2 separate regions of the Homo sapiens genome follow, and region 2 is linked to region 1. Evidence: fine-mapped expression QTL. A gene starts in region 1. The other region holds a variant in brackets. All regions are shown on one strand. Distances are between the middles of the regions.

Region 1 (11,566 bases):
GAGGTTTCTCTTTCCATTCTGCTTTGATCTAGTTTTGAAAAACCAAAAGTTGAAGGGAGAAATTAAAAAGGAACTAAAAAGATTTCTTATTTCCAAGAGCTAGCTGCAGCTATAAGCCATCAAATAAATAGGGAAAGAACGACTCTTGGAGAAGCTGAAGAAAAAAACAAAAACAAGTAAGGCTAGCTTTATGGAATTTATTTTCAGAAAGACTTTTCTCTCCTCCTAAGTTTTCATAAGGGATAGTATCTCACAACCAGGAAATGAGGAGAACTTATAAAGAATCCATGTTAACCTGTCCCAGGGAGTAAGAGAGCAGGATGGAGATGAGACACCTCTTGTCAGAGGGCTCTTGACCCGTGCTTACCAGGATCTCAATGACACTGAAGACACTGCAAAATAAATTCCGAAAGATTCCTAGAACACAATAGTCTAAAAGTTCTTTTTTGTTCCAAAACACTCAGACAATCTTCACTTATTACCCCCAAATTAAAATCTGCCAACTGATGAGATTTATTCTTTGGCAATACTTCTTGGAAAGACTCTCATTAAAAAAAAAAAAAAATCAAATTAAACCATATAGATGAATCACGAACTACAGGGGGATGCTGCATAAAGGTTATCTTATCTGACTCTCCTCTCAATTGTTCAGGATAATTACGCTAGGCACGTAACTGGGGGAAATTGAGTGCAGTAAAAAAACAAACAAAACCAGCTGGATGCAGGAGCTTATGCCCACAATCCCAGCAGTTTGGGAGGCCAAGGTGGCAGCATCACTTGAGGCCAGCAGTTTGAGACCAGCCTGGGCTAAATAGTGAGACCCCATCTCTACAGAAACTTTTTAAAAAGAAAATTAGCCAGGGATGATGGTGCATGTCTACAATCCTAGCTACTTGGGAGGCTGAGGTGGGAGGATCGCTTGAGCCCAGGTCAAAGGCTGCAGTAAGCCATGATCACACCACTGTACTATAGCCTGGACGACAGAGCGAGGCCCTGTTTCCAAAGTAATAACAATAATTTTAAAATTAAATTAAAAAATTTTTAAATAGAAAAACTGAAGAGACGCACCCATACACACTGCATATGTATGCATGTATACCTATATGTATACATGAAGGGTTTGGGTTTTTTTGTTTTTATTTATAGAGATGGGGTCTCACCATGTTGCCCAGGCTGGTCTCGAACTCCTGAGCTCAAGTGATTTTTCTGCCTCAGCCTCCCAAAGTGCTGAGATTACAGGCATGAGCCACTACACACAACCACATGAAGTTTTATATTCACCAAATGTTTATGCTGATTTAATTACGGAGGAAACACAAGACCAGAAAAGTCAAGAACTAAATTCATATACAAAGAGACATAAGTAACTAATACAACTGGCCGGGCGTGGTGGCTCACACCTGTAATCCTAGCACTTTCGGAGGCCAAGGCAGGTGGATTGCCTGAGCTCAGGAGTTCAAGACCAGCCTGGGCAACAACGGTGAAACCCCGTCTCTACTAAAATATGAAAAATTAGCCGGGTGTGGCAGTGTGCTCCTGTAGTCCCAGCTACTCAGGAGGCTGAGGCAGGAGAATTTCTTGAACCCGGGAGGCAGAGGTTGCAGTGAGCCAAGATCGCGCCACAGCACTCCAGCCCGGGCAACAGAATCCAGTACATGAATTTAGCTCATTTTATTAGCATAGAGTACTATGACTTTAGTTCCTGAAAAAAAGGGGCAGGAGGCTGGGTGTGGTGGCTCATGCTTACAATCCCAGCACTTTGGGAGGCTAAGGCAGGAGGATCACTTGAACCCAGGAGTTTGAGACTAGTCTGAGCAACATAGCGAGACACAGTCTCTTTAAAAAAAAAAAAAGGCCCAGGAGAATAAGGGTTAGCTCGAACTATCATTAACCTTTATTATATATTACACATTTTAGACTCTCTAGCATTGAAAGGAAAACTTCTCTGTCAATTTTTACATGATTTTTGAGAACATTTTAAATAATATTAAGACAAAAAACATTTCAAGAAGCAAAACACAGTGGAAAGCACACAACAGTGGAAAGCTCCACAGCAAATTGGAGCTTCCTGGTTTCTGTAGGTATTTCTTTTTTTTTTTTTTTTTTTTTGAGACAGAGTCTGGCTCTGTCGCCCAGGCTGGAGTGCAATGGCGCAATCTCGGCTCACTGCAAGCTCCGCCTCACAGGGTCACACCATTCTCCTGCCTCAGCCTCCCGAGTAGCTGGGACTACAGGCATGCGCCACCACACCTGGCTAATTTTTTGTATTTTTATTAGAGATGGGGTTTCACTGTGTTAGCCAGGATGGTCTCGATCTCCTGACCTCATGATCCCGCCCGCCTTAGCCTCCCAAAGTGCTGGGATTACAGGTGTGAGCCACCATGCCCTGCCTCTGTAGGTATTTCATAAAAACTGTAGTGAGGCTTACAATGAGAATTATTTGGGGAGAGAAAATGTGTATGTAAGAAAAATCTGACATCCTCTCACTTGGTGAGGGGAGATGAAACTCCACTAATACTGGGCTAGGCACTTTAATATCTGCCATTCATTCATACAGCAAATACTCATTAATGCCCACTAAGTGCTAGGCATTTCGAAGACACAATCCTGTTTACATGCTCCTTACTGTCAGATGAGACAGGTACCAGACACATTAAGAAAAATTACCAAACATGTAGTTATATTTATTGTTATTATAACTATTGTTACGATAAAAGCTACAATACAGTATGTGATAAGAGCAGAGGGGCAAGCTGGGAGGTTAGGGACGATCTGAAGAAAGAGGAGGAGGGAGGAAAAGGAGTGCATTCCAGATGTTATCTCATTAATCCCTACAACTCTGAGTTAAGTACCTTTCCCAAGGTCACAGGACTGTTAAGTGTCAGAGCCAAGCTTTGAGATGAGATTTTGAGATCAGAGGCTTGCTCTGTCGCCCAGGCTGGAGTGCACTGGAGAGATCTCAGCTCAGTGCAACCTCTGCCTCCTGTTTTCAAGTGATTCTCCTGCCTCAGCCTCCTAAGTAGCTAGGATTACAGGCGCCTGCCATCATGCCCAGCTAATTTTTGTATTTTTAGTAGAGATGAGGTTTCACTATGCTGGCCAGGCTGGTCTCAAACTCCTGACCACAAGCGATCTGCCCACCTCAGCCTCCCAAAGTGCTGGGATTACAGATGTGCGCCACCGCGCCTGGCCTCAGACCAGATTTAAATTATTCCAAAGTCCATGCTTTTCTACTGTGCCGTGCTGCATTTTCCCACATTGCTGCTTCTCCCCAAAACCATTTCCTCTCAAAGTTCATGGAAAAATGTTGACTCTACCCCAGATTCTTAGTGCCAGAATTAGACTCTCTCCTCCAGACTAGGCCCTTGGTTTTTCACCTACTACCTCCAAACTCATTTTCACAGATCTTTAGATTTGGGACGCTAATAAACATAATTTTTTCACCCAGACCATAACCATGCACAGAGACACCACTGCAAACTGTCAAAGTTTTTAAGGTTATCACTTACTTCTACTACAAATAAAATAATTTTATTTATTTATTTTTTTGAGATGGAGTCTCGCTCCGTTGCCAAGCTGGTGTGCAGTGGCGCAATCTCAGCTCACTGCAACCTCCGCCTCCCGGGTTCGAGTGATTCTCCTGCCTCAGCCTCCCGAGTAGCTGGGACTACAGGTATGCACCACCATGCCCAGCTAATTTTTCTATTTTTAATAGAGACAGGGTTTCACCATGTTAGCCAGGATGGTCTCAATCTCTTGACCTCGTGATCCACCCGCCTCGGCCTCCCAGAGTGATGGGATTACAGGCATGAGCCACTGTGTGCCACTTTTTTTTCTGAGACAGGGCTTTGCTCTATTGCCCAGGCTGGAGTGCAGTGGTGCAATCTCAACTCACTGCAGCCTCCACCTCCCAGGTTCAAGTGATTCTCCTGCCTCAGTCTCCGGAGTAGCTGGGACTATAGGCGTACGCCACCATGCCCAGCTAAATTTTGTATTTTTAGTGGAGACGGGGTTTCACCATGTTGGCCATGCTGTTCTCGAACTGCTGACCTCAAGTGATCCACCTGCCTCGGCCTCCCAAAGTGCTGGGATTACAGGTGTGAGCTACCACGCCAGGCCAATAAAATAACTTTCTGGCACACAGTTTTGAAAAGTGATTCACAGATTATAGGGCACAAACCTAAGGACACTGGTCAGGACAACAGTTAAGAAGATAAAAATAAAAGCAACTACAAAAAGAGCAAAGAAAATGCCACACTTTCACTTCTGGAATGACTTTCACATTCACCAACTCTCATCTGTGATTCAGATCTCTACTCAGGAGAGCTTCACTTTCCCTTCTTCCTGTTCCTACTTCCTCTTTCTCAGCTCTTCCATTTTTAGGAATATCAAACTTCAAAAGAAGACTTTTATTACATTAGATCTGTTGTGAGTTACAGCAACAGAACAGTCTTATAAAAACTAAATTTGGCAAGCTTCCTATTCCTCTACTTTCTTCCTGTGATTTTTTTTTTTTTTTTTTTTTTTTGAGTCGGAGTCTCGCTCTGTCGCCCAGGCTGGAGTGCAGTGGCGTGATCTCAGCTCACTGCAAGCTCTGCCTCCTGGGTTCACGCCATTCTCCTGCCTTAGCCTCCCGAGTAGTTGGGACTACAGGCGCCCGCCACCACGCCCGGCTAAATTTTTTGTATTTTTAGTAGAGATGGGATTTCACAGTGTTAGCCAGGATGGTCTCGATCTCCTGACCTCGTGATCTGCCTCCCAAAGTACTGGGATTACAGGCATGAGCCACCATGCCCGGCCCTTCCTGTGATTTTTAATGCCGGCTGAAGAACATAAAAGCTAGATCTTTTAACCTAAGATTTACCACAAGCAGATTATAAACCACTTAAATACAGTCATGCTTCACTGAACGTCAGGCATATGTGCTGGGAAATGCATGGTTAGGTGATTTTTGCCTTGCCAACATTATAGGGTGTACTTACACAAATCTAGATGGTATAGCCTACTAAATGCCTAGGCTATATGGTGTACATTACAGTAACATGCTATACAGGTTTGTAGCCTAGGAGCAATAGGCTGCTGCATGTTACTGAGTACTGCAGGCAACTATAATACAATGGTAAGTATTTGTGTATCTAAGCATACCTAAACATAGAAAGGATACAATAAAAATATGTACTATAATCTTGTGGGACCATCTCTTCTACGCAGTCCTTGGTCTTTATACCTTTATATCTGCACTGCCACCAATACTGCGAATAACAAGCTGGCTACGAAAATCAGACTACCTCAGACTCAGCAAGTTATACACCCAAAAATCTCTCACGACTTTCAGTTTAAAAATATATCTACAAATATAGACAGGAAGATGGGGAGAGACAGCGTGAGTGCCAGTGCCAGGCACTAACCATGTGAAGAAAGATGAATAAGCTGTGGCTTACAGAAGTAAAAACTAATTTGGGAAAAGAATTCAACATTCAAATGCCTGGTGTGTTTCTTCATCCCTAGGAACAAATAGTAACTAATGGCAAGACCCTAAAGTACAGGATAGGCAGTATGGAGCCCGAGGATTCCAAATACTCTCCAAGAAACAACATCGCTCATTTCTTGAAGCCTGGGGCTGCTCTGCAAAGGTAACAAGGCAAAGATGTTCGAAGACTTAATTATATTAATATATCGTTCAGGATACTTATGGATTATTTGGAGCAATGGAAACTATGTAAATCAAAGCATTACCATACCGTTAATTACATAGGTTTATAAGGTGAGTTTATATTTTGGGATTCTCTGGTAGTGATATTTTACAATATAATTATACATACAGTTTGTATAGTCTGATGAGTTTCCTCACTGAGGGTGAACTGCTGCGAAATGTTTTATGATTCGTTTATTGCTAGTCACGTTGTTCAAACAACACGTCTATAAGTAACGTTCCCTTTGAACTGTACTGTTACTAGACTGTCCTGTGTTGTACCATCGAAAACCATCGTCCAACATGCTCTTTTCCCAGGAATGGCCTGAAGCACACGAGTGGAACACTGCATAGAACTTTTATATAATAAAAGTACTGAACGTCTCCGGCCCTTAATATCCAGAGCACCCACCCTTGGTAAATGACAAAGGCAATAACCAATCGCCAGGCAGAATCCTAGTGACTTAGCCAATAAGAACATGAGGGTGGGGCTAGACTAAGCTCCCGGTGACTTCCCCGCACCCCAGAGACCCAGGTTGTGGGAGGCTGGACGGGAATTGGACTCCGAGGATTTCGTTACCCCCGGTTGTAGCTGTTGTCCTCCTCATTCTCGCAATCGCTGCAGTGCTCATGGCCGTTCCCGTTCCCTTCCATCATCTGCGGCAGCGGAGGTGCCGGCGGCTTCACTGCTGTCTCACTCTCGTCCGCCATCTTGAGTTGCGAGAGCAGGGCTCCGCGCCCCACTACATGGGGGGTTCCTATTGGACAAGGGGAATTTGCGCTGCATTCTGGGTTTTGTAGTTTTTCTGGCGAAGCGAGCTGCCACTAGGAGCGACTCTTTCCCAGGAAACTGACTACAATACCCAGGAATCACGAGGGACGGCTCCGGTCGGATTAAGAGGCGGGGCCACTGATACCCGGAAGCCTAGGCATTCGGCCACGCTTTGAGGAAAGAAGGGGCGCAAGGTTGGTGGGACCGACCCTTGGGAACCGGGCGGCCGCCTGGCATGATGGGAGTTGTAGTTCGATGCTGGTTTAGGGTTTCAGGCGTGGAGGTTCCAAAATCCGAGGTTTGATTTCAGCCTGCCCTTGCCAGTGCCTGGGCCGCTGGGAGCCGTTATTGGCTGCCGTTAAGGACCGTTACGTTTCCCGGGTAAGTGAAAGGGCCTGAGGCCCGCGGGTGCTACCTGCCTGGAGCCGGAATGCCCCAGGCCTTCTTAGAGTGGGCTTTTCCGCAAGAAGCCTAGTTGACTCCTGGCCGCCTTCCTCACTCGGGAGTCTGGGCAACCTGCGGTCATTGGCAGTTCAAGGTCTCATGAGAGGCAGTGGATTTTTTTGTGCGAAGCACTGACCCTAAGCCAGGAGACCACACTGCTAGGGAGGCAGGGCTCGCCGCCTCATCTTGGCCTCCAGGTACTTATCTTCGCCAAGCTCTTTCGCGCACACGTGGTCCCTTTAATTCCCCACAAGAATTTTCCACAACGACCCTTTTTTTCTTTTCTTTTCTTTCTTTCTTTCTTTTTTCTTTTTTAAATACGGCCGCCTTCTGTCGCCCAGGCTGGAGCGCAATGGCTCAAGATCACAGCTCACTGCAATCAAGGTATCCTCCCACCTCAGCCTCCCAAGTACCTAGGACTATAGGCATGAGCCACCACACCCGGATAATTTATATATTTTTTGTAGAGACGAGGGTCTCGCCTTGTTGCCCAGGCTGGTCTCGAACTCCTGGCCTCTAAGGATCTTCCTACCCCAACCCCGCAAAGTGCTGGGATTACAGACGTGAGCCACGGCACCCAGCCCACATCAACTCTTTCTTTAATAAGTGCCAGACTCTGTAGTAAGGCATTTCGTACATTATCTCATTTAATCCTCTCAACAAGTCTACAATATAGGTCCTATTATTATTATTCAACCTTTGTTTTGTTTTGTTTTGTTTTGAGACGGAGTCTCTCTCTGACTCCCAGGCTGGAGTGCAGTGGTGCGATCTCGGCTCACTGCAACCTTCGCCTCCTGGGTTCAAGCGATTCTCTTGCCTCGGCCTCCTGAGTAGCTGGGATTAAAGGCGCACGCCACCACACCTGGCTAATTTTTGTATTTTTAGTAGAGACGGGGTTTCACCATGTTGGTCAGGCTGGTCTCGAACTCCTGACCTCGTGATCTGCCCATTTCGGCCTCCCAAAGTGCTGGGATTAGAGGTGTGAGCCACCGTACCTGGCCATATTGACCTTTTTGACAGATGAAAAAATGTGGCCCTGAGAGGTTGGTAAATTGCACAGTCACATAGCTGGTTAAGTGGCAAATCGGTATACAAATCCAGATCTGTGTGCCCCAGGCCCTCTGAATTCTTTGCCACCATAAAAGTCCCATTTTCTGATACACTATTCACTCAAGGAAATCAGTTACTAAAAGGTAACTGTGACTCCAGTGCGTATTCTATATCAGGGGAAAAAAGGTAACTGCCACATTTTAATCTGTTTTTAACCTTGATTGAATGTTTCAGTCCCTGAGTCTCACTCTTTTGATTGAGTAATCTCGCCTAAGTGCCCAAAGACATGGTTCCCATTCTTGGAAATTTCCTATTCGGGTTGAGTGTGGTGGGTGATGAGAGGACTAATTCTTACCATCAGAGTGCTCCATGGCCAAAAAGGGAAATGATCTTTGCCTTTGGGAAAGATCTCAACATGGGAAGAATGGCAGGGCGGGAAGAAACAGTTCCCATCTGACTCAGGGAAAGAAAACACAAATAAAACACAGAACTAAATATAGTCAACTCTTTCTTTCTTTTTTTTTTCTGAGACGGAGTCTCGCTCTCTTGCTCTGTCGCCCAGGCTGGATTGCAGTGGCGCGATTTTGGCTCACTGCAAGCTCTGCCTCCCGGGTTCACGCCATTCTCCTACCTCAGCCTCCCAAGTAGCTGGGACTACAGGTGCCCGCCACCTCACCCGGCTAATTTTTTGTATTTTTAGTAGAGACGGGGTTTCACCGTGTTAGCCAGGGTGGGCTCGATCTCCTGACCTCGTGATCTGCCCGCCTCGGCCTCCCAAAGTGCTGGGATTACAGGCGTGAGCCACCGCGCCCGGCCAACTCAACTCTGTTTTTATATCAATGGCATAAGCATAAGTAATTATGATCCAAAGCAGCAGATAATCCTCAGTCATTTATATTTGACTTTGGAAGGCAGTCAAAGATGCCCACTCAGTCTGAGAGCTGTCACCACACTCAACTCTCCGGGGTCTAAGACTGCTGTTCAACGCGATTGCCCTATTTGCAGCTGCAGGGAAGGGGGGGGTCAGAGGTAAGAAGAAGAATAATAAAGCCAGGCCAGGCGCTGGGGCTTATGCCAGTAATCCCAGCACTTTGGGAAGCCGAGGTGGGTGGATCACCTGAGGTCAGGAGTTCGAGACCAGCCTGGCCAACGTGGCGAAACCCCGTCTCTACTGAAAATACAAAAAAATTAGCTGGGCTTAGTGGTGGGCGCCTATAATCCCAGCTACTTGGGAGGCTGAGACGCGAGAATCTTTTGAACCTGGGAGGCGGAGGTTGCAGTAAGCCAAGATTCTGCCACTGCACTCCAGCCTGGGTGACAAAGTGGGACTCTGTCTCAAAAAAAATAAAAAGTAGGCTGGGCGTGGTGGCTCATGCCTGTAATCCCAGCACTTTGGGATTACAATAATAAAATAAAAGATAAAAAGATATTTTGTGTGTTATTTTTATTTATTATTATTTTTGAGACTGTCTCGCTCTGTCGCCTACGCTGGAGTGCAATGGCGCAATCTCGGCTTGCTGCAACCTCTGCCTCCTGGATTCAAGTGATCCTGCCACCTCAGCCTCCCCGGTAGCTGGGACTACAGGTGCGCACCCCCATGCCTGGCTAATTTTTGTACTTACAGTAGAGATGGGGTTTCACCACGTTGGCCAGGCTGGTCTTAAACTCCTGACCTCAGGTAATCCACCTGCCTTGGCCTCCCAAAGTGCTGGAATTACAGGTGTGAGCCACCACGCCCAGGCTTTTTTTTTTTTTTTTTTTTTTTTGAGACGGAATCTCACTGTCACCCAAGTTGGAGTGCAGTGGCACAATCTCGACTCATTGCAACCTCTGCCTTCCAGGTTTAAGCGATTCTCCTGCCTCAGCCTCCCAAGTAGCTGGGATTACAGGTGCCTGCCACCACGCCCAGCTAATTTTTGTACTTTTAGTAGAGACAGGGTTTCACCACGTTGGCCAGGCTGGTCTCGAACTCCTGACCTCAGGTGATCCGCCCACCTCGCTCTCCCAAAGTGCTGAGATTACAGGTGTGAGACACTGCACCTGGCCTGAATTACTGTTTTTTTTTTTTTTTTGAGATGGAGTCGCACTCTGTTGCCCAGGCTGGAGTGCAGTGGCACTATCTCGGCTCACTGCAACCTCTGCCTCCTGGATTCCAGCAGTTCTCCTGCCTCAACCTCCCGAGTAGCTGGGATTACAGGCACACACCGCCATGCCCAGCTAATTTTTTGTATTTTAGTAGAGACGGGGTTTCACCATGTTGCCCAGGCTGGTCTCCAACTCCTGAGCTCAGGCAATCCGCCTGCCTCGGCCTCCCAAAGTGCTGGGATTACAGGCATGAGCCACTGCGCCCAGCCGAGAGCTTTCCACTTTGAAACAATTTTGGTTTGTGAAAAGCTGGCCCGGTTCTGCCTTATGGAGTTATGCAGAAATATAGCTGGGTGAGGTGGCTCATGCCTGTAATCCCAACACTTTGGGAGGCTGAGATGGGTGGATCACTTGAGCCCAGGAGTGTGAGACCTGCCTGGGCAACATAGAGGACCCTGTCTCTAAAAAAAATACAAAAATTAGCGTGGCATTGTGGCATGCACCTATGGTTCTAGCTACTTGGGAGGCTGAGGTGGGAGGATCGCTGGAACCCAGGATCATGCCACTGCACTCCAGCCCGGACAACATGGCAAGGCCCCGTCTCTATATAAATAGGAAAAAAGGGCCAGGCGCAGTGGCTCACGCCTGTAATCCCAGTACTTTGGGAGGCCAAGGCGGGCAGATCATGAGGTCAGGGGATCGAGACCATCCTGGCTAACATGGTGAAACCCTGTCTCTACTGAAAATACAAAAAATTAGCCAGACGTGGTGGCGGGCGTCTGTAGTCCCAGCTACTTGGTAGGCTGAGGCAGGAGAACGGTGTAAACCAGGGAGGCGGAGCTTGCAGTGAGCGGAGATCACGCCACCGCACTCCAGCCTGGGTGACAGAGCGAGGCTCTGTCTCAAAGGAAAAAGGGCCAGGCACGGTGGCTCATGCCTATAATCCCAGCACTTTGGGAGGCCAAGGCAGGCGGATCACCTGAGGTCAGGAGTTTGAGACCAGCCTGGCCAACGTGGTGAAACCCCGTCTCTACTAAAAATACAAAATTTAGCTGGGCACAGTGGTGGACGCCTGTAATCCCAGCTACTCGGGAGGCTGAGGCAGGGAGAATTGCTTGAACCCGGGAAGTGGAGGTTGCAGTGAGCCGAGATCGCACCATTGCACTCCAACCTGGGCGACAGAGCAAGACTCTGTCTTGGGAAAAAAAAAATATATATAAAAAAGAGTGCAGGCAGAGTGTGACTCCCTGGGTTCTAAATCCTGGCTCTGCCTCTGACTTAATGAATGACCTTAGGCAAGTCACTTAACCTCTGAGCTTTGATGTCATTATCTGTAAAATAAGACTTACATAGAGAGCCCTAAAAGTGTCTAGGACAGAATTAATACCCACTTAATTAGTATTTCCCTTCCCAGGAAGTCAGCATTACTGGTATGATAACCAAAGAAAAGTTTTCTTCATGATGTCCATCACAGATCAAGGCCTTTGCTGTACTTCCAGCATGTCAGAGATAACCTTCTTTTT
Region 2 (11,566 bases), 44 kb before region 1:
TGGGGAAACTGGCAGTAGGTTTTGGTTTTTATTTTTTGAGACAGGGTCTCGCTCCGTCGCCCAGGCTGGAGTGCAATGTTGCAATCATGGCTCACTGCAGCTTTGAACTCCCAGGCTCAAGCGATCCTCCCATCTCAGCCTCCTGAGTAGCTGGGACTACAGGCACAGGCCACCAAACCTGGCTAATGTTTAAATTTTATGTAGAGATGGCGGGGGGGGCGGGGGTCTCCCTATGTTGCCCAGGCTGGTCTCGAGCTCCTGACCTCAAGTGATCCTCCTGCCCCAGCATTCCAAAGTGCTGGGATTACAGGTGTGAGCCACTGCCTGGCCTGGCCGTAGGTTTGTAACTGTTTCATAGAAGAGCCCTGGAGAAGACAGTAGAATGAGCCTATCTAGTTTAAAAAATAAAGAAGCACGTTGATTTCACCACCGCCACTCCCTGAGCACCTCTATGCTGCCACCCCCACAGGCCCATGAGGAGGGACAGGGCTGGATGAGTTTCTTGGGCCTCTCCCCTCAACAGGGCATGGACTTGGCTAAGACAGCCAGGGGGTGGCAGCAGGAGATGCCACAGCTCTAAATAGCCCGATCCCTGCTCCTGGCTTAAAGCTGCTGCGAGTATCACAAGACTGTCTGAGGATGCCAATTCAGCAGGTCAGCGCCTCCCCACAACACACACACACACACACACACACACACACTCACACATACACAGAGGGGCCTTGAATGAGGAGGAGACAGGAGTCTGAGGGACCCTCAGACTGCCACTCTCCAGGCTTGGCTGGGCTCAAGGCCCCTGTCTGCTCAGTAGGGCAAATCCCAAGGACACGGGCTTCCCTTCCTCCAGCCAGCCAGCCTTTTACACAAAGGCTGGAAACGCTGCTTGGGCCGCCTCTATAGAAATGCCAGGAGAGCGCACTGGACACTAGGCGACAGAATCTGGAGAAAATCCTGCACCCGCCCCTGCCAGCAGGGTGAAATGTGGAGGCCTGGTGTTTTAGGTTCTGCCAGCCAACAGTGCCGGCACTGGACAAGGGCAGAACTTGACATTAGTCCCCAGAGGGTGGCCTGGAACTGGGCTGGGATAGGCCTTGAACTGGCCCCAAGCCCCACAGAAACCAAAACACAGGGCTGGGGCAGACTCCACCTTCTAGCAACTCCAAGAACTAATGCAGAAAGTGGCAGTGTCCCCCGCTCCTTCATGCTGGGAGTGGCGTTTGGCTCTGGTTAATTTGTGTGTCTGAAAGAGGATAATCAGAATCAAAAGGGCCCAGAAGGAATGGGCCGAGCCAGGCGGGCCGGGCCAGGCAGCCCGGGCATCTGGCACTCAGGGCTGTCAGAGGGTCAGGCTGCCAAACTGCAGCCTCAGGATGGGAGGCACAGTGAGGCTAAGTCCAGTTTTAGCAAATGAAGAGCCATTAGCATTGCCCAGCCCCTGCAGAGCCAGGTCTGGCCAGGGGCTGGCTGGGGGGTCTGGGTCAGGTGAGCACCAGACCCAGGGCTGAGTGCCCATCCTGCTTGGCTTCTCTGGTTTCGTATCTGGTACCAAGAGGAAGGGGTGAAGGCTAGGATGAGGGCCCAATACTGAGAAGGCTGCCTTGAAAGGGCAAGAGTCTTTTTTTTTTTTCTTTTGAGACAAAGTCTTGCTCGTCCCCCAGGATGGAGTGCGATGGCGTGATCTCGGCTCACTGCAACCTCTGCCTCCCGGGTTCAAGCGATTCTCTTGCCTCAGCCTCCGGAGTAGCTGGGATTACAGGCGCCCGCCACCATACCCAGCTAATTTTTGTATTTTTAGTAGAGACGGGGTTTCACCATGTTGGCCAGGCTGGTCTCGAACTCCTGACCTCAGGTGATCCACCCGCCTTGACCTCCCAAAGTGCTGGGATTACAGGCGTGAGCCACTGCACCCAGCCAAAAGGGCAAGAGTCTTTAAGGAAGTGAACTGGGAAGCAGAAGCAAGGGAGAAATCACAGGGTTTTTTTTTTGTTTGTTTTTTTGAGATGGAGTCTCGCTCTGTCGCCTAGGCTAGAGTGCAGTGGCACGACCTTGGCTCACTGCAAGCTCCGCCTCCCGGGTTCACACCATTCTCCTGCCTCAGCTTCCCAAGTAGCTGGGACTACAGGCGCCCACCACCATGCCCGGCTAATTTTTTTGTGTTTTTAGTAGAGACAGGGTTTCATAGTGTTAGCCAGGATGGTCTCGATCTCCTGACCTCGTGATCCACCCGCCTCGCCCTCCCAAAGTGCTGGGATTACAGGCGTGAGCCACCATGCCCAGCCTGAAATCACAGCTTTTTATCCCAGAGGCCCATGGGTAGAAACAACACATAGGGCTATGTTCTCTCAGCCCAAAGCTAAGGGCAGGAAAAAAGGCATGGGCCATAGGAGCCTGAGTGACTTGGTTTGGGACAGGAGGGTTGGGGGGCTTTAGAGGGGTCAGGCAGGTCCTGTGTCCTCTCAGTTTCCCTGGAAAGGGGCTTGGAGGCACCAGTCATGGACCTGAAAGGATCAGGGGGTCAGGGAATGGGTAAGTTCCAGAGGATGAGAAGAGGGGGAATGGGAAGTCTTAAACACAGCTACTGGGGCCCAGCAACTTGCCATGTTAAAATGCACCCCTAGTGACTCAAAGAACCACCCGGCCAGTGGTGCAGGAGGAGAGATGTGGCACCTGGGCACAGTGGGAAGGCACGGGGCCTGCACCTCCACCAGAGGAGCCACTGCTGACCTGGACCAAGGGGGCTGCTCTGTGCCCAGCTAGGGAAGCCTGGGCCGGCTCCTGTGCTGAGGTGCTCAGGTGCTGGCTGAGAGCCCAGTTGCTGCTCTAACTTGGAGTGAACCTGGGTCAATAGCAGCTCGTCTCTGGCGGGTGGGAAGGGTCTGACAACACCAAGTTTGCCCTGGAAGAAGGGCAGCCTTAAAGGAAGGCCTTTGGAAGCTGGCCTGGTGCTGTGGGCTTGAGGGACTTTGTGTCCAAGCCCTGTCGTCCTGGCTCCAGCCTAGGCTCCAGCACTCCATTTCTTCCACTGCCACCTGCTGACCAGGAATACCAGGACAGAAGGTTTTGTTCAGCTGCTTTCTTTATTAGAAACAAGTGAGATGTATTGAGCAGAACAACAATGCATTTGGTATTTCCTCCCCGACCCTGGAAATGGATGCCCCCCCACAGCCCAAAGAAAAGCCAAGACAAAAAGGTGAAGCTCCCCCGTCCCTGTTCCCAGACATGGCACCTGCCTGCCAGCCAGTCAGTATTTTTTAATTTAATGGAATGAAATTGTCCTCAACAGCCTCCGTAGGTGTAGTCGGCTTGCAGGCCCGCCTTCATTTTGCAGCAGAGTAAAACTGAAGCCTCAGGCCTCCCCTGGTTCTGGGGAAGGTGGGCCAGGCCATCAGAAGGCTGCCTCACAGGTGGGTAGGCACTGACGGGAGGGACACTCCTGCTCCCTCCCCTGATCTAACATCTGGTTCCCCTCCTTCTCCTAGAGTGCAGCTCCATGCAGTTGTCCAAGGCCTTTGGGCCCTTAGGTTGGTTAAATGCTGGTCGTCTTTGGGGAAAGAATTCAGGACCACAGGGACTCCCCTAGGCTTCTGAGAGCCAGCAAGTAGGGGGGCGACAGCAGTTAGACAGGAGTTGTGGGGAAGGCCTGACATTTTCCATAAACCTGGTGTTAAAGTAGCTGGGTGTGGGCTGGCCTTCAAATAAGACAGAAGCCTCTTCAGAAATAGGCATGTGTGGGGAAACGAGCCCTATACAGGCCTCGATCCGGAGTGGAGGCCTCCTACTCAGCTCTCTCCCTACACACAGACTGGAGTCCGTGGTCAAATGCAGAGTCAATCCAAAGGCAGGAGGTAAAGGTCGTCTTTGAAACATGGCAGCTGGGAGGACTGGGTGGCAGAGGGTGGGGGCCAGGCCCAGGGAGGCCTTCCAACAGCAGTTGCTCGAGGACGGTTAGCGTGAAGGCCTCAGGGTCCTTCCTTTGCTTGGTTTGAGACAGCCATGGCGCTACCACACTGCAGGGCTCCTGTGGGGAGGCCCTGACCCCCGGGATGGTGCTCTCTGAGCTGAAGTCCCAGAAGGGGTTGAATGAAGAACGCAGGGACTACTGGGACAAAAATCAGATGAGCAGCAAGCAGCCCACAAGCCAAACCCTGCACACCTGGGCAGAGTTCTCACCGCAACATAAAGCAGAGTCCGAGGAGCCGGCCACCTGGTTTCAGTGAGGGAGATGCTGGGGCCTTTGCCAGGAGATCTGTTTCTTCCAGAACAGCCACTGGGGCCTCACCGTTTCCATTCCATGACCTGGGTCAACCGAAACAGAGCTCACTCCAGAGATCCGCACAGCCCAAATCTCAGAGGCAGCTCAAGCTGGGACCTGGCCCAGAACAGATCAAGACTAGGACAGGGAGCCTTTCCAAGTTCCAGGTTCCCCCAAGGTAGGAAAGACTTGGGCACTTTGTCCTTTGATATCCTCAAAGGTCTGGACAGGGTGAGCCACTCTGGGGCTTGAGGCACTGTGCAACTGTTGTCTGTGGGGCTGCAAAGCAAGCCCCTGCCTCTCCGACTCCTCCCACCTGTGGAATGCAGTGCGCATCTTGCTAAGAACAGCAGCTTCTTTGGTCTCAGTTTCTTGGAGTCAAGGAGCAAACGTCAGTCACGATTGCTGGGGCCTGCAATTTGCAGCGCAGGAACAATGGGAAAAGGGAGGGCCCTGCAGGCCCCTGATGAAAATCCACCTTAGTGGAGTTGCTGGCTCTAGCAGCAGTCTGCAGAGCGGGCAGCATTCCCACGGGTGGCACGGCCCCCATCCCAAGCATACGATGTCTTCTGGTTTTGGAAACTCTGCAGAATTAGCCTCTGACAAACCACACCAAAACCCACAGCCTGCAACAAGCCCCTGCTGGCCTGTAGAAAGTGGCTTCGGTGAGTGGCACAGGGCTGAGCCTGGCCTCCTGGCTAAGGCTTCATTCCTGTATGAGCGGAGAGGTGACGGCAGCAAGGAAACCCGCACACCACACGTCATGCTACCTCCTTCCCACCACTTGCTTCTCTCTAGAGCAAAAATTACATCCAAGCCTGGAAGTACAATTTCACAGCCCAATTTTGCCCGGTCACTTGGCTGAACACCACTCCAGAATGCCTACATCGACAGCCATGTGACCAGAGGCTTGATTACGTTTTGGGAAACTGGCAGCACTGACAACCATCACTACCACAAAAATCCACAAAACAGCATCAGCGAAAATCAGACTCAGACAATGGAGATGGGAAACCACTTCTGTTGCCAAGTCCAGATCTGCCTCTAATCACTTCTTGCTACCACTTGCAGGCTGTATCTTGGAAAGGGGCACAACAAGAAATGGCTAATGGGTTGGAAGGCACAGGCCAGGGGCTGGTGGCTGAAGGGGTCTGGGTATTGGCCCCACGCCACTCCTGCCTAGCCACCCCAGGGACATCAGGGTGCTGGCTCTTTGCTCTAAGATGAGCTAAGCAGGGCTTACACTGATAATGGTCTCCAAAGGTCCCTGATGTTACAAGGAGGTCCAAGGGCCTCTTCAAACTGCATCATCCCAGGCAGTGGAAAAGCAAAATCTCACAGGGGACTCATCCCTATAAGGTTGGCAACAACTGGCTAAAGAGCCCTTTTAAATCAGTTGGCAGGATGACTTCCTACAGGGAGCAGGCCAAGGGGATGGAAGAAAGGACTCAATCAATGAGGTCTGCTTCTGCGGACCGTCCATTGCTTTGTCTCAGAATGCAGGCAGGTCTGGCCCTGCAGGAAAGTCCCTGCCCAGGGTCAGCCCCAGCCAAGAGCTCCACGTGCTATCCCATGAGATCTGAGCCTGTTCCATCTTCCCTTCCTTCTCAAAGCCAGTCATCCCAGCTGATTCAGAAGGGGAGCTGGATGAGGTTCTCCAGATCCTCTTTTTCCCCATGATAAGCCAATGTCTCCTCTGGAGGAAACCATGAACTGTGCCAACGCGTCTGTCTGCCACTGTCCTCGGGTCCTCATTCTGAGGAATGATCTGGATTCAGCTTTTCATTAAAGACCAAACATCCTTGTACATTTGGAACATGAAAGATATTTAAAATATTTATATATATATAATATATATATATACTTTTATTATTCACCCGTTAACTCCATTATATGCCAATCACGAGCTAGTTTTCAGCAGTTACATTCCCTTGATCACGGCTGCATGAGGATGTAATTAACTGGAAAACACGGAGACCAGAGACACGACCGGAGGTGACGTCACGCAGCCCACGCCATCGCAATACAATTGTCAAGTTCGCTGGCGGTTTGGTAAAGCCGGTTCAGTTCTGCTCCCTTTGCCAGGGATTCTCACGTGTGTGAAAATTGGACCAACAGTGGTGGGGTTCCATTTCCTGGTTCGAATTTTCAGTGGCTTTATC[C/T]AGAATCGCACTGGTGACTGGTTATTGTAGCACCAGTCCAACCTAGGAAAGCCAACAGGGAGAGGCAGAGCTGAGTTGACAGTGGCCCAAAGACTCTCCCACACCCCCTATCCCTGAAGTTCCGAGTGGCTGGGCCCGGGTCCACCGCCTGTGCTGTGGGAGCAGACTCACACCCAGCCGGCCCCACACTCAACCTCCACACCAGGGTTCACACGTCCATCAGACCTCCCAGGGAAAACTGGCCCACGCTCCAGCTCACCCCTATGTCCCCTGTGGCACTGGGGGAGGAAGGGCTAAGAAAGTGTCATGCCAGAAGAGGGCAGCAGCTCAGGAGAGGAAACCTCCTCAGAGTTCCCCCAGCCCTACCCTCCTGGCAAACCGTGGGCAACTCAACTTCCACGGTTCCCTCACGTGGGAAGGCCTCATTGGAGATGATCTTCGTGCTACTGTGTGGCTCTGTCCCCTCTGCCATCCTCACACCAGTTGCTGAGAGGGGAACGCTGACCTGCTGGTCTGGCCAGCAGAGGGAGGGCATTTTCAAAGGTTCAACTCGAGGTAACAAGGACCCAGACTGCGGCTGTCTCCTCAACCCATGGCCCGGTTTCTGCTGGAGACATGGACACCCTGGGCCGGGCAGCCTGGACTCTGGCTATGTGTCGCCTACCTTCTCTGCCCCCATGCTGGGGCATTTCCAATTGTAAAGGTAATACTGCAGGTTGCCGTCCCCTATGCCAAACTTGAGCTTCTCCAGGAAGGTTTTGTTCTCCATGAGATCCAGTGCATTGAACACATCAAACCCTTTCTGCAAAGCAGCAGGGACAAACAAGAACAGGTGAGGACAGGTGGGGACAGCCTCCTTCCTACCCCTTTGCTGCCATTTCAAAGCTGTCCTGTGGGCAGCCACAAGAACAAGGTTCCCTCAGAAGCTCCGCTGCTTCCACGTTAATCCCCGCTCTCCGGGTGGTTCTCAGGACACTCTGAGCGCCCCCTCCAGCCTGGCCTCTGCCCAGTGTCCCTCAGAGTGTACACATATGTACTCAGTGTCCAGGCCGGGGCTCTTGCTATTCCTGGTTATGCCTCCCTGAAACTCTAGTAATTTCCACAGTCCTCTCTGGAGTCCAAACCCTGAGCCCATTCCTCTGAGAAGCTGGCTCTGGTCAGCTACATGGGGTTTGTGTTGCTTCCTTACTCCATGGATGCCCCAACTCTCAGGCCCTCAGTGCACCTCATGTTGTATGACACCTGCTGTGTTGCTTGGAGACTGTGAAGATGCTTCCTAAACCTCACCAACTGGAGCAGAAGCTCTCACAGGGCAGGGACCAGATTGCCTACAGCAGGCTGGGCTGGGCTGGGCACAGGTTACCAGAACCCACAGCAAAGCACTGACAGACGGGCTCGCCATCCGCTACTGGCAGTTGGATGCTCCAATGACTCACCACGACAGACAGCAATCACCCCTTTCCCACGCTGGGAAAGCTGTGAGGAGAAGCCCTGTCCTCCCAGGGAAGGCCTGGCTATTCAGGCTCCTTGGTGGCGCCTCCTGTGAGAACGAAACTCACTGAAATGAATCAGGAGGAGTTCAATGCCTTCACTTCGGATGCTCCTTGTTCCCTCCAAGTTTTGAGTTTCTGCCTAAAAACTGCGGGAACCCTGCCTAAGCAGAACAGATGAGGAGGGCTCAGAGCCTCCAGCCCATGGGAGGCTGCGTCCCGGGAGCTGTGCTCACCATGGCTCCACTGCCTCTTCCCTGCACATCTCCAGAGACCCCCCCGTCTGCTCCTCACCATTTTGGCGAGGACAAGGGCGTCGCTCATGAGGTCTAGAAGAGGGGTCTGGGTGTGAACGTTGTAGAAAGAATAAGCAGCTTTGAGACTCTTGTGGGTTGGATGGTTCATGATGGTGGAGGGCAGCGTATAAAAGCTCAGGAAATCTGTCACCTCTCCGTTTGCGTTCTGAAGGGAAGGCAATAAAGAGGCAATGTCAAGCATGCACAGTGGCACTGCGGCCCGGGAACAAAATGTTTCTCTCACTCCACCTTCAGGCAGCTCTGCCCCTCTAGATAAATGGCTGGAAACTGCAACAGGACATGTGGGGAGGAGGAGGGACATTGGCTCAGGGCACTTGAGGACAGAGCCGTGATCGTGGGCTGAACCTGCCAGACCTCTTTCCCAGCATGGGCACCGCCAGGGACCTCTTCTTGCAGCTCACATCCCCCCAGACTGTGTCTCCTATGTCTGGTCAGCACTGGGTTAAGCTGGGACAGGCAGGGAATTGCAGGCTTTCCTGAAGGATTAAGCGGGGCTCAGTTCTCTCTATTTTGTGTTATCAAAGTGGGGCAGAGGGGGAGAAGGGCTCAAGCCAGATCCAGAGGTATCTTTTCAGCAAATTCAAGCACCAACTCCCTGTTTTTAGGGAGGACCAAACACGGATGGTCAAGGAAGTCTAAGGTGCCAACACTCGAGCCCTGGGAACCCGGCCACTCAGGGGGGTGCCTCTCTGGGAACGTGTTAGAGACCTGGAACACCACTCCCTGACTCACCTCCACCACGAAAGTGTCGATGATATTCTCCTGGGGGTAGAACCAGTGCTCCACCTCCTCCTGGCTCATGACGGGCGTAAGGTGAAATTGCTTCAAGTACCTGGTGAGGAGCTGGTGCACTACTGGAATGTCCTTTGTTTCCATTGGTCGCAGCCCAGCTGTCTTGGGAGTCTGGAGGCAAGACAGAAGAGATGGAGTGAGATGAGCTGATCACCCTGGATCTATCCATGGCAAGGACAGATCAGGCCCTCAAGAGAGAATCCCTGGTCATTCGGCGGCTCCCTGCACCCCCGTGCATATCTCCTCAGGCACAGGGCCTGCCTCTTCCGTATCTTCTGGCCCTTTCCCTCCTAGTCCAGGCAGACTCAGACTGCTACATCAATCAACCATCTACATGGCCCCAGGCTGACTCCCTAAGAAAACACAACCCTTCATGCTCCACCCTTGTTTCAAACTCCCCACCCCAGAAGACAAGAATTTCTACCCTTGGGCCAGGTTGGCCTTTCTAGCTGTACCTTCTGCCCACGCAGCCCAACAGTCCTCACAGGCTTCTCACTGAACTGTGACTGATGCCATCCCACACTCACTGCTCTTTCTCTGCTAGACTTAGAGCACTTCGCGGACAGACCCCAGGGCCCAGCCAGGGTCTGCCCACCCAGACACTATTACACCAGTACTTCCCAGAGAGACACGGCTGTGGGTTACATTCAGAAGAAAAGCAGCATACTCCCAGGATTTTATCCCCAGTCAGCGTCCCACCCGGCAGCTGCTTTTGCTAGAAAAATGCTTCAGTGGAATGAAACCATGTGATCCTGTGGAGCAAATACCGGGGCTGGTAGAACATCCCCAGAGGCTCAGATACACAAAGGTGGCCTTGGGGCAATCTGCAAACAGGGTGGTGTCACAGTTTACAGGCCTCAGTCAGTGCCTGACACAATGCTTCCCAGTGCAGGAATTGCTTTTAAAACTTCAGTTCTAGAACCTCCAGCCTCTAAAATTCCTTGCTAAATCCTCGTCTCTTTAGGGGAACGCTCAATGACCTCATTCTACATGGCAGCTCCCACAATGATACCTCAAATCCTGGACTGAAAACACAGCCATGCTGGGGTTTCCACCCAGACATGGGTGAGACATTCTTCTGCTGCTGCAGCACTCTAAGAATGCTCTCTGCCTGCCTGCCCACCGGCCTAGAACGCAAGGCAGATCTGTCATGAGAACAGAAGGGAGAAGACACATACCACAGTCCCCCAAGCCTGTGCTTTTGGCAGTGTCTAACGGTACTGCAGCAGTCTCTCAAGATGGGACACTAATGACCCCAATCACTAGGTGGATTAGCCTGATTTCAGAGTGATCAATCCTGTTTAGAGGCTGAGGAGTCCAGGCAGGCAGCCTCATGTCAGCAGGAACGCAGTGACTGTGTGCACTGATGACCAATAGGAAGAAGCACTCCGAGGAAAGAGAAGAGATTTTTTCTTTCTTTCCTTTTTTTTTTTTTTTTTTTTTTGCGACGGAGTCTTGCTCTGTCGCCAGGCTGGAGTCCAATGGTGCGATCTCGGCTCGCTGCAACCTCTGCCTCCCAGGTTCAAGCAACTCTGCTGCCTCAGCTTCCCAAGTAGCTGGGATTACAGGCACATACCACACCCAGCTAATTTTTGTGTTTTTAGTAGAGACAGGGTTTCACCATGTTGGCAGGATGGTCTCAATCTCTTGACCTCGTGATCCACCCGCCTTGTCCTGCCAAAGTGCTGGGATTACAGGCGTGAGCCACCGCCCACCTGAGAAGGGATTTTAAGAATCCCTACTGGGATGGGCACAGTGGCTCATGCCTGTAATCCCAGCACTTTGAGAGGCTGAGGTGGGTGGATCACTTGAGCCCAGGAATTCAGATGAGCCTGGGCAACATGGCAAAATCCTTTTTTTGTTGTTGTTGTTTTTTTTGAGATGGAGTCTCGCTCTGTGGGCCAGGCTGGAGTGCAATGGCGCTATCTCAGCTCACTGCAAGCTCCGCCTCCCGGGTTCACGCCATTCTCCTGCCTCAGCCTCCCGAGTAGCTGGGACTACAGGCGCCCACCACCAAGCCCGGCTAATTTTTTTTTGTATTTTTAGTAGAGACGGGGTTTCACCATGTTAGCCAGGATGGTCTCGATCTCCTGACCTCGTGATCCACTCGCCTAGGCCTCCCAAAGTGCTGGGATTACAGGTGTGAGCCACCGCGCCTGGCCTTCTTTTTTTTTTTTTTTTTTTTTTTTTTTTTTTTTTGAGACGGAGTCTTGCTCTGTTGCCTAGGTTGGAGTGCAGTGGTGCGATCTTGGCTCACTGCAAGCTCCGCCTCCCAGGTTCATGCCATTCTCCTGCCTCAGCCTCCCAAGTAGCTGGGACTACAGGTGCCCGCCACGCCACGACCAGCTAATTTTTTGTATTTTTATTAGAGACAGGGTTTCACCGTGTTGGCCAGGATGGTCTCGATCTCCTGACCTCGTGATCCGCCTGCCTTGGCCTCCCAAAGTGCTGGGATTACAGGCGTGAGCCACCACGCCCAGGCTTCTTTTATTTTGAGACGGAGTCTCGCTCTGTCGCCTAGGCTGGAGTGCAATGACGTGATCTTGGCTCACT

The links. PIP is the estimated chance that this variant, and not a neighbour inherited with it, causes the effect.
Region 2: its variant is fine-mapped to the expression of NMT1 in whole blood (TOPMed, PIP 0.99).

What each region holds. Positions count from the first base shown.
Region 1 is chr17:45,056,167-45,067,732 of GRCh38, reverse strand. It overlaps NMT1 (N-myristoyltransferase 1), which reads right to left and starts at 6,416. Exons shown (of 12, transcript NM_021079.5): 1 at 6,273-6,416. The coding sequence starts at 6,403. It also overlaps a transcript of DCAKD not described here. RefSeq lists enhancers at 5,976-6,055, 5,998-6,292, 6,146-6,505, 5,653-6,644, 6,606-6,785 and 1 more.
Region 2 is chr17:45,100,509-45,112,074 of GRCh38, reverse strand. NMT1 (N-myristoyltransferase 1) reads right to left here. Exons shown (of 12, transcript NM_021079.5): 9 at 8,954-9,124; 10 at 8,199-8,366; 11 at 7,079-7,216; 12 at 3,059-6,456. The coding sequence ends at 6,436. It overlaps PLCD3 (phospholipase C delta 3), which reads left to right. Exons shown (of 15, transcript NM_133373.5): 15 at 1-3,116. Among named protein-coding and RNA genes, the nearest start is that of MIR6784, 8.1 kb to the left of the region's middle. RefSeq lists enhancers at 1-145, 4,715-5,216, 8,049-8,549. The variant C/T (reference allele first, on the strand shown) is at 6,415.